Linked DNA regions of Homo sapiens: region 1 is linked to region 2. Evidence: fine-mapped expression QTL. Tissue or cell type: esophagus muscle. Region 2 holds a variant in brackets; the other region holds the start of a gene. All regions are shown on one strand. Distances are between the middles of the regions.

What was found. PIP is the estimated chance that this variant, and not a neighbour inherited with it, causes the effect. A credible set is the group of variants that fine-mapping cannot tell apart.
Region 1: it holds the start of AOC3, and the variant in region 2 is the best candidate, but not a certain one, in a credible set for the expression of AOC3 in esophagus muscle (GTEx, PIP 0.74).

The regions. Positions count from the first base shown.
Region 1 is chr17:42,849,622-42,852,374 of GRCh38, forward strand. It overlaps AOC3 (amine oxidase copper containing 3), which reads left to right and starts at 1,578. Exons shown (of 4, transcript NM_003734.4): 1 at 1,578-2,753. The coding sequence starts at 1,723. It overlaps AOC2 (amine oxidase copper containing 2), which reads left to right. Exons shown (of 4, transcript NM_009590.4): 3 at 1-109; 4 at 461-1,086. The coding sequence ends at 727.
Region 2 is chr17:42,661,999-42,664,772 of GRCh38, forward strand. It overlaps TUBG2 (tubulin gamma 2), which reads left to right. Exons shown (of 11, transcript NM_016437.3): 5 at 975-1,054; 6 at 1,379-1,505. Among named protein-coding and RNA genes, the nearest start is that of TUBG2, 4.1 kb to the left of the region's middle. The variant T/G (reference allele first, on the strand shown) is at 1,186.

The sequences.
Region 1 (2,753 bases), 190 kb after region 2:
GAGAAAGGAGGAGGAGTCACAGAGCAGTAGCATCTATCACCAGAATGACATCTGGACACCCACAGTTACCTTTGCTGACTTCATCAACAATGAAACCCTCTTAGGAGAGGTTGGTTGCCCTAGGGACATAGGAAAGGGACACCTGTGGGCATGGCATCTTGGCTGCCCAGCCTCTGGCCAAAGGTTAGAGGGAATGGCTGATTTCCAGTTCGCAGATTCAGAGGCCATGGAGTTTTCTGATGACCAACACAGGTCATCCCTCCTGGGGTGAGATTAGCTCTGGGACACTGGCTCCCCCCTCTCCCCGCACAGCTGCTTACATGGATTGCTCCACGTGTTGTATGGGCATGAGGCTGGGGAGAGTGGAAGCCAGGCTGAGACTGGAGGCTGGGATTGTGACTGAAGGGTGGTTCTTTGGGTCACGCTTCCATAGTCCTCCAGCTCCTCCTTCTTCTTGCAGGATCTGGTGGCTTGGGTCACAGCCAGCTTCCTGCACATTCCCCATGCCGAGGACATCCCAAACACAGTGACTCTGGGGAACAGAGTTGGCTTCTTGCTCCGACCCTATAACTTCTTTGATGAGGACCCCTCCATCTTCTCCCCTGGCAGTGTCTACTTTGAGAAGGGCCAGGATGCTGGGCTCTGCAGCATCAATCCTGTGGCCTGCCTCCCCGACCTGGCAGCCTGTGTCCCGGACTTACCCCCTTTCTCTTACCACGGCTTCTAGTCCTGAGGGTGTGGCGGGCGGCGTGGTTAGGCACATGTACTTTTCCCTGTTTCTACTTTCTATTCTCCGTGTTTTTATCACACCTGCTCCCCAGATTCCCACCCCCTCAATGTTCCTCTCACACGAAACCCCCATCAGTCCCTTTGGTTAATTCTTACTTCCTGTTCATCTCTAAAGTGTTAAATTATAAAAATGATTTTTAAATATTCAAAGAAAAATATCACAAATCCTACTACTCAGAAATAGGTGGTCACATTACATCAGACATCTCTTTATGCATGTGCATTCAAAAGGAAGAGTAGATAGAATTTTGTAAAACAGATGTTGTATGTAATTTATAATAAAAAGTATTAGAGGAATTTTACTTGAATTTATTGTTTGACCTGTTAAGTATCTAGAGTCCTCTGGAGAATACTAAGGAGTCTGGCCAGGGAAATTAGCGCTGGGGGCCAGAGGGCAAGGGGGATAGACCTGGCCAAGGAATGTCATTTGGAAAGCTAAAGGGGCAGGGGGTGGGGGTCTTTGGAAGGAAAACGATAGTTTGAAGTTACAGGAAAATATCTGGCCCTGACTAAGTGGGGGACTGGGGAAGAAGCTGGGCTGAGGTCAGGAGAGGCTGCTCTGCACAGATCCTGCTCCTTCCCAGTGCTGCATTATCTTGAAATTTTCCTTCCCCTTCCCCCTAGCCCCAACTCTCCCCAACTCCAACCCTGACCCAGAAAGTAGAGTGATTTGGAGGCTGGAAGACAAAACCATGTAAGGTCTGTGGAAATCACAGCTGTTCAGACCCGCCTCCAACCCCGGCCACCCCGCCCCCTTGCCCTAGCCTTCCTGTGTCCTTCCCACCCTTAGTCCCAGGCATCTGACTACCGGGAACCTCAGCCAGAGTCCGGGAGCCCCCCACCCCGTCCAGGAGCCAACAGAGCCCCCGTCTTGCTGGCGTGAGAATACATTGCTCTCCTTTGGTTGAATCAGCTGTCCCTCTTCGTGGGAAAATGAACCAGAAGACAATCCTCGTGCTCCTCATTCTGGCCGTCATCACCATCTTTGCCTTGGTTTGTGTCCTGCTGGTGGGCAGGGGTGGAGATGGGGGTGAACCCAGCCAGCTTCCCCATTGCCCCTCTGTATCTCCCAGTGCCCAGCCTTGGACACACCCTGGCCAGAGCCAGCTGTTTGCAGACCTGAGCCGAGAGGAGCTGACGGCTGTGATGCGCTTTCTGACCCAGCGGCTGGGGCCAGGGCTGGTGGATGCAGCCCAGGCCCGGCCCTCGGACAACTGTGTCTTCTCAGTGGAGTTGCAGCTGCCTCCCAAGGCTGCAGCCCTGGCTCACTTGGACAGGGGGAGCCCCCCACCTGCCCGGGAGGCACTGGCCATCGTCTTCTTTGGCAGGCAACCCCAGCCCAACGTGAGTGAGCTGGTGGTGGGGCCACTGCCTCACCCCTCCTACATGCGGGACGTGACTGTGGAGCGTCATGGAGGCCCCCTGCCCTATCACCGACGCCCCGTGCTGTTCCAAGAGTACCTGGACATAGACCAGATGATCTTCAACAGAGAGCTGCCCCAGGCTTCTGGGCTTCTCCACCACTGTTGCTTCTACAAGCACCGGGGACGGAACCTGGTGACAATGACCACGGCTCCCCGTGGTCTGCAATCAGGGGACCGGGCCACCTGGTTTGGCCTCTACTACAACATCTCGGGCGCTGGGTTCTTCCTGCACCACGTGGGCTTGGAGCTGCTAGTGAACCACAAGGCCCTTGACCCTGCCCGCTGGACTATCCAGAAGGTGTTCTATCAAGGCCGCTACTACGACAGCCTGGCCCAGCTGGAGGCCCAGTTTGAGGCCGGCCTGGTGAATGTGGTGCTGATCCCAGACAATGGCACAGGTGGGTCCTGGTCCCTGAAGTCCCCTGTGCCCCCGGGTCCAGCTCCCCCTCTACAGTTCTATCCCCAAGGCCCCCGCTTCAGTGTCCAGGGAAGTCGAGTGGCCTCCTCACTGTGGACTTTCTCCTTTGGCCTCGGAGCATT
Region 2 (2,774 bases):
AACACATCACAAATTGAAAATATTGACTAGGCACAGTGGCTCATGCCTGTAATCCCAGCACTTTGGGAGGCCGAAGCAGGTGGATCATCCGAGCCCAGGAGTTCAAAACCAGCCTGGGCAACATGGTGAAACCCCATCTCTGCAAAATATACAAACATTATCCAGGCATGGTGGTACATGCCTATAGTCCAAGCTACTTGGAGGCTGAGATAGGAAGATGCCTTGAGCCCAGGAATTCAAGGCTGCAGTGAGCTATGATCACACCACTGCACTGCAGTCTGGGGGACTGAGTGAGATCCTGTCTCTAAAACCAAAACAAATTTGAGGACAGGTGCGGTAGCTCATGCTTGTAATCCCAACACTTTGGCAGGCCGAGGCGGGCAGATCACTTGAGGTCAGGAGTTCAAGACCAGCCTGGCCAACATGGTGAAACCCCGTATCTACGAAAAATAAAAAAATTAGCCAGGCGTGGTGGTACATGCCCGTAGTCCCAGCTACTTGAGAGGCTGAGGCAGGAGAATGGCTCGAACCTAGGAGGTAGAGGTTGCAGTGAGCCAAGATCGGGCCATTGCACTACAGCTTGGGTGACAGAGCAAGACTCCGTCTCAAAAAAAAAAAAAATTGAAAATACCGTAAGTAGAAATGCATCAGGTTATAACCCAATAAGCCCATCATGAAGTTGAAAAATTGTAAATTGAACCATTGTAATTCAGATGCTTCTTGATTTAAGATGGGATTATGTCCTGATAAACCCATCATAAAGCCAAAACATCTTAAATTAAACCATCCTAAGTCAGGGACAGTCTGTAGGTAGTCCAGAATTGAAGTGAATTAGTGGATACCCAGCTGGCATCTACTGTAGAATTGACTGCTTACCTGATGTGTGTGGTAAGACCCCACCCATCTGGTATCAGAATTGTGTTGTGAGAGTGTGGCAGGAGAAACTGAGTCTGTTTATTCCTGTATACACACAGGGCTTCGTGCTGTGTCACTCCATCGCTGGGGGTACGGGTTCTGGCCTGGGCTCCTACCTCCTGGAGCGACTGAATGACAGGCAAGCCTGTGTTTGGGGAGAGGGCATTAACCCTGGTTCCCTGAGTAATGTCATTGCTTTTTTCTCTTGAGCTAGAAAGTCTGCCACTACCCCTTTTGAGTCATAGGGACAGACCCACCCAAGGACCATGT[T/G]GGAAGCTATTTTGGGGGGTGGGGGTTTACCTGTGGAGGGGAGGGGATCTACAGAGTTTGAAGCTTTCAGGCTTATCCTTTTTGGCTCTGAAGACTCAGTTCTGCCCTCACCCCTTTTGTACAAAATGGCACATATGGGCAGTGATGGAGGGGTCCTTCCGGTTCACTATGCCACCATCCTCTTTTCTCTCAGGTACCCCAAGAAGCTAGTGCAGACTTATTCAGTGTTTCCCTACCAGGACGAGATGAGCGACGTAGTGGTTCAGCCCTACAATTCACTCCTGACACTCAAGAGGCTGACGCAGAACGCAGATTGTGTGGTGAGCAAAGAAAGAGTTGAGGGGCTGGGTGTGGTGGCTCATGCCTGTAGTTCTAGCACTTTGGGAGGCCTAGGCAGATGGATTGCTTGAGCTCAGGAGTTCAATACTAGCCTGGGCAACATGTGAAACCCTATCTCCACAGAAAATACAAAAATTAGAGCTGGGTGCGGTGGTTCACACCTGTAATCCCAGCACTTTGGGAGGCTGAGACGGGCGGATCACCTATGGTTGGGAGTTCGAGACCAGCCTGACCAACATGAAGAAACCCCATCTCTACTAAAAAAACAAAATTAGCCAGGCGTGGTGGCGCATGCCTGTAGTCCCAGCTACTCGGGAGGCTGAGGCAGGAGAGTTGCTTGAACCTGGGAGGTGGAGGTTGCAAGGAGCTGAGATTGCAGCATTGCACTCCAGCCTGGGTGACAGAGCGAGACTCTGTCTCAAAAAAAAAAAAAAATTAGCCAGTCCTGGTAGCATGTGCCTGTAGTCCCAGCTACTTGGAGGCTGAGGCAGGAGAATCACTTGAACCCGGGAGGCAAAGGTTGCGGTGAGTCAAGATCACACCATTGCACTCCAGCCTGGGTGACAGAGCGAGACTCTGCCTCAAAAAATAACATAAAAAAAAATTAGCCGGGCATGGTGGCATGTGCCTGTAGTACTAGCTACATGGGAGGCTGAGGTGGGGGGATTGCTTGAGCTCAGGAAGTCGAGGCTGCAGTGAGCCATGATCACACCACTGCACTCCAGCTTGGGCAACGGAACAAGACCTTGTGTTTAAAAAAAAAAAAAAAAGGGTAGAGGACTTTGGTCTGTCTCCTCAGGCCAGTGAGTCTCATTCACCCCACCTTTCCTCAGCCCCTATACACACAGACAGAAGACCAACAAAGCCATACCTGTGGGCCAAATTAGGAAATAAGGTCCTGACTTCTAAGTTTCTTAGAATCCTTTTAGGCAGCAAAACTCTCAACAAAGTGAATATACCTTCCCCACACCACCACGTATCCCACCTTTGCCTACTTAATGCCCACTCATGCTTGTATTCTTAGCTCAAGGATAACTTTCTTAGCAAAACCCTTCCTGACTACTCAGTCAAGATCAGATTCCTATATGTGTATTTTAGGGAGTTAACTATAATTTTCTGTTTTATATTTAGTGTGCCTCCCTCCACGAGACTATAGGCCTAATGAAGGGAAAGACGGTGCCTGTTCCTCTCTGTGGTCTTCCCAGAGCCAGGCACAGTGTATGGCACATGTGGGTACTCACGTGTTTGTT